Homo sapiens: one gene and its partners. The protein of the gene in region 1 interacts with the protein of each later gene in a pairwise test. Each region holds a gene or a part of one and is shown on either strand. Other genes may lie near its edges. The genes, in order: SGPL1, STX8 and MARCHF5.

Region 1 (3,653 bases):
AAGGGGATTTGTTAATCTCCCCTATCTCCTACATCCCCTTCATTCGCCTCTACCCCGTGCAGTAATTTATCACCCAGAAATAACCGCTGTGAGCATCTTGGATGGTTAATGCAGAGTGACTTGTAGCAATTGACAGTTTCTGTTTATCCTCTTACAGAAGGATATGTTTATGTAAATTATAGGTTCTTATATGTAAGATATTTCCCCATGCACAGAGATATGGTTATTACTTATAGGGCCTATGCATTTACTTTAACAGAACAATGACTGCTTTTACTCGGAATATTAACTTTGGAATCAGTTTTCTTTTGAGGTATTTCTCTAGCTGTTGCCACCACCTTTCACCTCCTCACCTGTTAATTTAGAATGTTTAGGAGTGTTGCTTTGCTTGTTGCTGTAAGGAATTAATCCACATAGATGCGAGTGGCCCTAGGCAGTCATCACTTTCTGAAGACAACATACATGTTGCATGAAGTGCTTTCACTGGAAAAGTTGTCATTCATTCCTTGACTGTAATGTATAATGCTATTTGGAACTAACTGGTAAAGAACCAATAACCATGGCTGGGTTTTCAGTGGCACACTAACCCATCATTCTATGAGGTGTTTCTCAAGCTACTTTATATGATATGTAAAACATGTTCTTGGCCCTCCACCTGGGAAGAAAGGACCTAAGTGAATAAAAAAATAACCTCAGTGCAGTGCAGCATCTCAGAATTAGAAATAGTCTTAGAAGTCATGGGATGCAGCTTTTTTTTTTTTTTTTTTTTTGAGACAAGGTCTCACTCTGATGCCCAGGCTGGAGTGCAGTGGCATGATCTCAGCTTACTGCATCCTCAATCTCTGAGGCTCAGATGATCCTTCCACCTCAGCCTCCTGAGTAGCTGGGACGACAGGCACATGCCACCATGCCCGGCTGATTTTTGTATTTATTTTTTGTAGAGATGGTAGTTTGCCATGTTACCCAGGCTGGTATCTAACTCCTGGGCTCAAGGGATCCAACCGCCTGCCTTGGCCTCCCAAAGTGCTGGATTACAGGCATGAGCCACTGTACCTGGCCTGTGATGCAGCTTATATTATACATGAATCTGTTGAAGAGTATCTCTGGTAAATGGATATCCAGTCTCCCGTCTTTTCTGCTAATGGAATAAGTGAGCAAAAGCTAGGAAACAATACAAGGTGGATTCAGGAATAGTAATGTTAACTCTGATAGCTAACATTTATTGAGCATGTATTACATGTTAAGTGTAGGAATACTGTACTTATTTAATTTTCACAAAAACCTTTTGGTATCCTTCTTTTACAGATGAAAAACGAGGCTTATAGAGAGTAACTACAGCAGTTGAGTGGTGGAGCCAAGTTTGACCTCAGTTGGTCTGACTTCAGATCCCTCCCTCTTGCCTACTTTGTGTCCTTACCCCTGGTAAGGGTAGAGGTTGCTGACCATTGTGACTGATGGGAGAGGGTCTGTGTGGAGCAGATGGGATAGGATAGCTCCACCCTCTAGGGGGCACTTTGGCAATGGGGGACTGGGGGAGGAGGGAGTCTTTTTTCTTCTAGTGTAGTCTGAAAATACATGTTTTATTATTAAATTATTATTAAATCTTGTTTATTGGGTCAGGCGTGGTGGCTCATGCCTGTAATTCCAGCACTTTGGGAGGCTCAGGCGGGCAGAGTACTTGAGGCCAGGTGTTCTAGACCAGCCTGGTCAACATGGCGAAACTCTGTCTCTACTAAAAATACAAAAATTAGCTGGGCATGGTGGCGTACACTTGTATTCCCGGCTATTTAGGAGGCTGAGGCAAGAGAGTTGCTTGAACCCGGGAGGTGGAGGTTGCAGTGAGCTGAAGCTGCACCATTACACTCCAGCCTGGGCGACAGAGCGAGACTGTCTCAAAAAAAAAAAAATTTGTGTTTTATTTTCTTTTACGTCGCATTTAATGAATTATATTGAAATTTTAAAACTTGTATCTGCAGGCATAGTGTTATAATCTTTAAATGCCATGTCAGAGTAGCAAAAGGGATTACAGAATATTTGTTATAAAAAGAGGGCATTGGGTCATAGAGTTGAAGACTACTTGTGTGGACAGTATGCTGTGAGAGAAAACCTGGAGATGACCTGGAGTCCACATATAACAAGCCTTGAATCCAGACTGACAGGCTCGGGCTATCAGCCCTCAGTGTGTTCCTGCCCTCAATTTTGTTATCATTTGATTAGGATAGTTTGCTTGCCTTTTTCCATTTGCTCGTATGTGATGTGTCATAGACTGCAGTACTTTCCACCTGTGTCTCATAGAGAATAAAATGAGTATGTTCATCTGCTGAGAGTTGTGATGATGTCAGAGGGAATTCAAGTCAGACAGCTTTGTAGCAGCCTTTCTCCCCCTTGGCAACCATTCTTTTTATTCATACTCTCCTCCTTGGTGCTAGAGGGTGGTATCACTTTGCAAGTTGCCAAATATTTGTAGTTTTTAAGAAAAAGGTATTTTATAAAGCCAGTCTACCCCTTAGGTGGCTTTTTTCTTTTCTCATCAGAAAATGATGACTAAATTAGCTGATATTCATAGATGAATCAAGGTTAGCGTGTGCACCCTGGTAGTGCTAGGTGGGGTTTGAGTGATAATTGCTTATCTAGGGCAGTGGTTCTTGACCAGGGGCAATTTTGCCCTCTGGGTGACATTTGACAATGCCTAGAGACATTTTGGGTTGTTACACCTGAAGGGTTCTGCTGGCATCTAGTGGGTAGAGGCTAGGGATGCAACCAAACACCTTACAACGCACAGTTTCCTGCAAACAAGAATTATCTGGCCTAGAATGTCAATAGTGGTGAGGTTGAGAAACTGGTATGAAGTTTCTTACCATAGATACCTGGATATCTGTGTAGTCTATGCTTTCATATGGGTGGGGGAGTGATTCCCTTCTTGGAGGTTAACGTGTCTGTTATTGTCTCACTTGGGGTTATTTTGCCCATGGGTCAAGCCTTGCTGCTCAGGAATATATATTGGAGATGGTGCAGCTGATCTTTTATAGCAATGCAGAATTCTTAAGAAATGCTGTCCTTTGCAACATTTCTGCACCACTCTTTTCTTGATTTGCAAACAGCAAGCTTCCCTCAGTTTTGTTTTTTGGGTTCAAAAATTGAATCTTTCCAGGTCCTTGAGCGTCTTTATCTGTGACCCTTGACTCTTTTTCAGGGATGCTTTCTTTCTGAATCTCAAGTGGGATTTAAGCAATAAACTGAAAGATTGACCTTAGGAGCTCTGTTCTATTATTTGAGCCTTGTGTCTTGTTTGTAGGATTTGCTAGAAGAAAGGGAAAATTCATTGGGATTGTTGATAGGACATTAAAAAATTTGTTGACATTTGAGTGGCCATTGCAGGATGAACACTGTATTTGGCAATCTCCCAGTGTTATAGATGAAACAGAGCTGTAATAATTTCCACAGCCTTTGGTTTAAAGGAAAAGAGGGTTATAAACAGATAGAATCCAAATCCCAGTATTTGACTTAGCTTTTCAGTCTATGTGTCAGGAATTTTTAGTAATATTTACCTTCTTAATTAGGTTTTACCCAATCTAATATTATATACAGTTTGTGCACATTGGTGGCAGAATTGAGAATCAGCCTGGGTTTAAGAATTTCCATAGGGAATTGAT
Region 2 (3,653 bases), on another chromosome or scaffold:
TCCCAGCACTTTGGGAGGCCGAGGTGGGTGGATCACTTGAGGTCAGGAGTTCGAGACCAGCCTGGACAACATGGTGAAACCCCATCTCTACTGAAAACACAAAAATTAGCTGGGCATGGTGGCATGTGCATGTAATCCCAGCTACTTGGGAGGCTGAGGCAGGAGAATTGCTTAAACTCTGGAGCTGGAGGTTGCAGTGAGCCAAGATCATGCCACTGCACTCCAGGCTGGGCGACAGAGGGAGACACTGTCTCAAAAAATAATAATAATAATAAAGAAAGAATGTATAAGGTCAGGTGAAGTGGCTCATGCTTGTAATCCCAGCACTTTGGGAGGCAGGAGGGTCACTTTAGATTAGGAGTTTGAGACCAGCCTGGCCAACATGGTGAAATCCTGTCTCTCAAAAAAACCCACAAAAATTAGCTGGGTGTGGTGGTGGACACCTGTAATCCCTGCTACTTGGGGAGCTGAGAGGAGAATTGCTTGAACCCAGGTAGTGGAGGTTGCAGTGAGCCAAGGTTGCAACACTGCATTTCAGCCTGGGATGATAGAGCAAGACTCCATCTTAACAAAACAAAACAAAAAAAAAAAAAAGAAAAGAAAAGAAAAGGAAAGAATGTATGAGAGTGTCTGGTTCCTTGTCCCTTTCCAAAACTGTCTTCTCAGTTTCCTAATCTGATAGGTGGAAGTGGTATCTTGTTTTAGTGTGTATTTCTTTTCTTTTCTTTTCTTTTTTCTTTTTTTTTTTTGAGACGGAGTCTTGCTCTGTCACCCAGGCTGGAGTGCAGTGGCACAGTCTCGGCTCACTGCAACCTCCGCCTCCCGGGTTCAAGTGATTCTCCTGCCTCAGCCTCCTGCGTAGCTGCGATTGTGCGCCACCATGCCCAGCTAATTTTTGTGTTTTTAGTAGAGATGGGGTTTCACCATATTGGTCAGGCTGGTCTCGAACTCCTGACCTCGTGATCCACCTGCCTTGACCTGCTGGGATTACAGGCGTAAGCCACCACACCTGGCCAGATATATTTTAAAAGTGTTTGTTAGCTTTCTCCACTCATTCATTTTATGGCAGAAGTTGTTTCCAAACATATCCTTTACTGTGTTTCTTTTTTCTTTTTTTTTTTTTTTTTTTTGAGACAGAGTCTCGCTCTTTCACCAGGCTGGAGCGCAGTGGCGCGATCTCGGCTCACTGCAACCTCCGCCTCCCGGGTTCAAGCGATTTTCCTGCCTCAGCCTCCCGAGTAGCTGGGACTACAGGCGCACGCCACCACGCCTGGCTAGTTTTTATATTTTTAGTAGAGACGGGGTTTTACCGTGTTTGCCAGGATGGTTTCCATCTCTTGACCTTGTGATCCGCCCACTTCAGCCTCCCAGAGTGCTGGGATTACAGGCGTTGAGCCACCGCGTCCAGCCCTTCTGTGTTTCTTAACATACCACACACATAGACACAGTTCAGCCTAAAAACAAACAAACAAAAACTTGTGTCTGGGCGCACTGGCTCACACCTGTAATCCCAGCACTTTGGGAGGCTGAGGTGAACGGATCATGAGGTCAAGAGATCGAGACCATCCTGGCCAACATGGTGAAAACCTGTCTCTACCAAAAATACAAAAAATTAGCTGCGCGTGGTGGCACGTGCCTGTAGTCCCAGCTACTCAGGAGGCTGAGGCAGGAGAATCGCTTGAACCCGGGTGGCGGAGGTTGCAGTGAGCCGAGATCGCGCCACTGCACTCCAGCCTGTAGACAGAACAAGGCTCCGTCTCCAAAAAAAAAAAAAAAAAAAAAAAACCACTTTTGTAGTTTGCATCAAGAAAGCTAGTATATAAAACTTTGTACTTAGTCCAAGGGAAGTGGCGCCGGTTGTTGACAGACGCCACTTCCCTTTTTGCTTCATGCGCACGCGCCGCATTCTCGTCCACCTATTGGTGAATTGTAGGTTTCTTTCCAAAGACTACATTTCCCAGAAGGATGGTTGTTTGGTTTTTTTTTTTTAACCATCACTTATGAATTGTTGTGGAAAAGATGTTAGAGACTATTTAGTGTTACATATAAAGAAAGAGAGATCCCAAAAGGTGAAATAACTGGTTCAAGAGCATAGATAGTGGAATAGGGCTACAACTCTGCCTCTGGGGCTCCTAGTCTAGCGTGTTTGCTAGATTCACACATTAAAATGATTCTCTTTGTAATTTTCTTTACAAATCATGCAATGTATTTAAATAGTGAACTGATGGTAACAATTTATAGAGCAAATCTGTTGCATAAAGTAGCACTTTATAAATATCCTAGGTGTGTTAATAGATATTAACATGGAAGAAAGAGAGCAATATAGAGAACTTCTCTCCCCCAGCGCCCCCACTTTTTTAAACAGAGCATCTTAGGGTATTAATATGTAGGAAAATGCCCTGGAACACTGACACACACATATAACTCAAAACCTAAGGAATCACTGAGCCAGGTTGCACCATTGGCAGGAGAAGTCATTTAAATTTGGTCACTGGGGCTGGGCGTGGTGACTCACGCCTTGTAATTCCAGCACTTTGGGAGGCCAAGGCAGGCAGATCACCTGAGGTCATGAGTTCGAGACCAGCCTGGCCAGCATGGCAAAAACCCGTCTCTAATAAAAATACAAAACTTAGCCGGTTGTGGTGGTGCACGTCTGTAAGCCCAGCTACTCGGGAGGCTGAGGCAGGAGAACTGCTTGAACCCGGGAGGCAGAGGTTGCAGTGGGCCGAGATCGCGCCATTGCACTCCAGCCTGGGCGACAGAGCGAGACTCTGTCTCAAAAATAAGTAAATAAGTTTGGTCACGGGGAGGAAAGTAATATTTACCTGGTATATTTCTCAATGAAAAACTTGTGTCATGATCCACGTCAGTGTTTATAAGTGCCTCTGCGATGGTCCTGCCAAGGTCCTTTACCTGACGGCCTGGTGAAGGTGAAGGTCAGAGCAGGAAAAACGCAAGAGTGGTGCGCATCCCTTCTGGGTAGTAGTGATTACAGTCTGTAAAAGCCACAACTGACTTGAAGAGCTAACTTAATAATGTAATAGTTAAAACGAGGTCATTTATTCACCATTGAACCTTAACAAGATATCTGCAGAACACAGCTTGAAGGGGACCGAAGACAGAACCTCTTGGATGATCTTGTAACTCGAGAGAGACTACTTCTGGCATCCTTTAAGAATGAGGGTGCCGAACCAGATCTAATCAGGTAGGATGTTTTTATTTACAGGGATTACTTGGTGGGCGAAGACTTCTTTGCAGATACTACAGCTGTTTCCTGAATGGCTTACTTTAGGAATTAATCAAAATCTATTCTATTCATTTATGGTGTTTGACTATAATTTTCTACTCAATTTAGTTTTCGTTAATTTTTGTTTGTTTGTTTGAGACAGAGTCTCGCTCTGTCACCCAGGCTGGAGTGCAGTGGCGTGATCTTGGCTCTCTGCAAGCTCCACCTCCCAGGTTTCCACCATTCTACTGCCTCAGCCTCCCAAGTAGTTGGGATTACAGGCGCCCACCGCCACCGTGCCCGACTAATTTTTTGTATTTTTAGTAGAGATGGGGTTTCACCGTATTAGTCAGGATGGTCTCGATCTCCTGACCTCGTGATCCGCCCGCCTTGGCCTCCCAAAGTGCTGGGATTACAGGTGTGAGCC
Region 3 (3,653 bases), about 22 Mb from region 1:
GTTTCACTCTTGTTGCTCAGGCTGGTGCAATCTCGGCTCACTGCAACCTCCACCTCTTGGGTTCAAGCGATTCTCCTGCTTCAGCCTCCCGAGTAGTTGGGATTACAGATGACCACCACCACGCCTGGCTTGTATTTTTAATAGAAACGGGGTTCCACCATGTTGGTCAGGCTGGTCTCAAACTCCTGACCTCAGGTGATCCGCCTGCCTCAGCCTCCCAAAGTGCTAGGATTACAATTGTGAGTCACAGTGCCCAACCCCTACTTCCTTTTTGTTTCCTTATTCTTAAACACCTTATAAGGTTTTTACTGCTACCCATGAGAAACAAACTTCCTCTTGTTCGCTCTAGTCTATACCTGAATATTCACTCTTCTTTATATTTCTAAACCCAAAAAAAGGACACATAACCCGACAAAGGATTTTTTCAAATATTCTGAATTTATTTGCTAACACTTTGAGAATATTTAATCATATTTAGTTATAATGTTAGAGTGATCATTATATTGAAATTTTTAATGATATAAAAATAGAATTTCTTAGCCAGACGTGGTGGCACTCATCTGTAGTTCCAGCTACTCAGGAGGGTGAGGTGGGAAGATTGCTTGAGCCCAGGAGTACAAAGCCAACCTGGGAAACGTAGCAAGACCCTGTCTTTTTTTTTCTTTAAAGGAATTTCCTGGCCGGGCGTGGTGGGTCACGCCTATAATCCCAGCACTTTGGGGGGCCAAGGCAGGCGGATCACCTGAGGTCAGGAATTCGAGACCAACCTGGCTAACGTGGTGAAACCCCATTTCTACTAAAAATACAAAAAAGTAGCCAGGTGTTGTGCCATGTGCCTGTAATCCCATCTACTCAGGAGGTTGAGGCAGAAGAATAGCTTGAACTCAGGAGGTGGAGGTTGCAGTGAGCCAAGATCATGCCAAGACTGAAACTCCGTCTCAGATAGATAGATAGATAGATAGATAGATAGATAGATAGATAGATAGATAGATAGATAGATGATAGATATATAGATAGATAGATAGATAGATAGATAAAGAAATTTCCTGGGAAATCATTATAGGTAAAACAGTCATGGCCAGCTAACTTTTGCTACCATTATGGAATTGGGGTTTATGAAATATCATAAACCAGACCATTTCACTTTAGGGCAACTCAAAAGGATCACCTTCCACATGCAAGATAGGAAGTTGTTAAGTTCTACCTGGAGACACAGAAGAATATCAAATTCGATGACATTATTGACCATTAGGAAGAGGCTAGCCTCCTGCCCTTTAATATTACATCTTAATTAGATAAATTAACCAAGTGGAAATCTGGACTATATCCATAGCTCAAATTTGGTCCTCTCCACACACTTTCATAAAACATTTCTGGGGCCGGGCGCAGTGGCTCACGCCTGTAATCCCAGCACTGTCGGAGGCCGAGGCGGGTGGATCACCTGAGGTCAGGAGTTCGAGATCAGCCTGACCAATGTGGAGAAACCCCGTCTCTACTAAAAATACAAAAATTAGCTGGGCGTGGAGGTGCACACCTGTAATCCCAGCTACTCGAAAGGCTGAGGCAGGAGAATTGCTTGAACCTGGGAGGCAGAGGTTGCAGTGAGCCAAGATCGTGCCATTGCACTCCAGCCTGGGCAACAAGAGCAAAAAATTCCGTCTCAAAAAAAAAAAAAAAATTTTTGGCCAGGCACGGTGGCTCGCGCCTGTAATCCCAGCACTTTGAGAGGCCGAGGCAGGCTGATCACCTGAGGTCAGGAGTTCGAGACCAACCTGGCCAACATGATGAAACCTCGTCTCTACTAAAAATACACAAATTAGCTGGGCATGGTGGCATGCCCCTGTAATCCCAGCTACTCGGGAGGCTAAGGCAGAAGAATCGCTTGAATCCAGGAGCCGGAGGTTGCAGTGAGCCAAGATCACACCACTGCACTCCAGCCTGGGCAACACAGCGAGACTCCATCTCAAAAACAACAACAAAAAGAGGTAAATTTAAGGCCAAGATTGATGTGGAAGTGAAAAGGATTTTGGAGAGAGGGAAAAGGTAGAAGTTCACAAATGCCAATTTTGTATTTCTCGCCTTCTGGGATCTACACCAATTTAGAAATAGCCCCAAGACTAGGATAGGGTAAGGAAAAGATTGTATTAGCTTCATTACCCCCATAGATAGGGTACCCTAGAGTTCCTGAATTGGGAAAAATGCCTGGGATCTGTAACCAAAACTGGACCTCCTACTACAGTCCCTCAATTCTAGACCTTGGAAGTGCACTTAAGGAGGGTTAGGTCTGTAGGGTAGACACTTAGCCAGCCAGAGACATCACACCCTATCTTACACACCACTAAGTAAGGAGAAAGAGCCAAAGAGAAATGAGCTTTCAGGCCATCTCTTGAAGGCCGGTCCTACCTCTTGGCTGGCTATGCTTAATCTCCTAGAAGGAAGATCAGGAAAACAGTTGTTTTGCTGGAAGACAAATAGGACTTAGAATTATATCCCAGTTCCGTAGCCCAGTCTAACCAAATCAAATAAAGGAATAGAAGCAACAATCAGAGGTCCCCGCCCCTCTATTGTAATGTAATCAGTCTGGGTCAGCCATTTTAATTTTTATTCCTGTGTGGTATGAAATGGCTTGGGAACTTTGTTTTTCCCTTGAATGAGACATTTCTTATAAATAAATCAGGACTGATAGCTTTCCAGCTTATTTTTTAAACTTTTTATTTCTGTGTATTCTTTTGAAATTAAGCATTTTCTATTAAAAAAATAGAGCTTAACATGCAACACCTCATTTGAAAAAGAAGTAATTCTAATATATGCTATCTGTTTCACAGGTTGTAGGTCATAAAGAAGGTCTGGATGTTATGGAGAGAGCTGATCCTTTATTCCTTTTAATTGGACTTCCTACTATTCCTGTCATGCTGATATTAGGCAAGATGATTCGCTGGGAGGACTATGTGCTTAGACTGTGGCGCAAATACTCGAATAAACTACAAATTTTAAATAGTATATTTCCAGGTAAGGCACTGAACTGTGGTTGTAAAGTGCATACCAAATTGATCTTGAAGAACAATAACATGCTTTTTTAGCCATGTTTGAAGGTAGTCTAACTCTTCTGATTTATTAGCACTAACGCACTGCATTTTTTTCCTCTAGGGATAGGTTGTCCTGTTCCTCGAATTCCAGCTGAGGCCAATCCTTTAGCAGATCATGTCTCTGCTACTCGAATCTTGTGTGGAGCCCTTGTCTTTCCTACTATTGCTACAATAGTTGGTAAATTGATGTTCAGTAGTGTTAACTCTAATTTACAAAGGACAATCTTGGTAAGACGGCTTTAACATTACTTATATTACCTTGCAAAAGAGAATGAAGTGTATTTGTTTTTAAAAGGTGGGGAACTGTATAAATATTCGGTCTGTGGCTCCTATGCATTAAGCCTCTATTTGAGCCTCACTATCATTCAATAGCTTGAGTGGAAATAAAAAGAGGAGAAACCACTGCAGCAGTTCTGGCCTTTTGGAACTATGTTGTAGGTGCTTTCTCTCCTGGCATATGCATGAATCATCACACCTGTCCCTCTTGCCAGTGGGATTACAGTACTTTACGATCAGACCACCTGGTTCAAATCCCATCACAGAAATTGTCTTGCTGTGAAATCTAAA

What was found.
Region 2: the proteins of SGPL1 (region 1) and STX8 interact in binary tests that used the Homo sapiens proteins (3 or more experiments, as listed by UniProt).
Region 3: the proteins of SGPL1 (region 1) and MARCHF5 interact in binary tests that used the Homo sapiens proteins (3 or more experiments, as listed by UniProt).

The regions. Positions count from the first base shown.
Region 1 is NC_000010.11:70,818,879-70,822,531, forward strand, and holds part of SGPL1 (sphingosine-1-phosphate lyase 1), read left to right. Parts: intron 1-3,653. UniProt on the Homo sapiens protein: Cleaves phosphorylated sphingoid bases (PSBs), such as sphingosine-1-phosphate, into fatty aldehydes and phosphoethanolamine. Elevates stress-induced ceramide production and apoptosis.
Region 2 is NC_000017.11:9,544,724-9,548,376, reverse strand, and holds part of STX8 (syntaxin-8), read left to right. Parts: intron 1-3,094; coding exon 3,095-3,205; intron 3,206-3,653. UniProt on the Homo sapiens protein: Vesicle trafficking protein that functions in the early secretory pathway, possibly by mediating retrograde transport from cis-Golgi membranes to the ER.
Region 3 is NC_000010.11:92,346,524-92,350,176, forward strand, and holds part of MARCHF5 (E3 ubiquitin-protein ligase MARCHF5), read left to right. Parts: intron 1-2,825; coding exon 2,826-3,009; intron 3,010-3,147; coding exon 3,148-3,314; intron 3,315-3,653. UniProt on the Homo sapiens protein: Mitochondrial E3 ubiquitin-protein ligase that plays a crucial role in the control of mitochondrial morphology by acting as a positive regulator of mitochondrial fission and as an important regulator of immune response.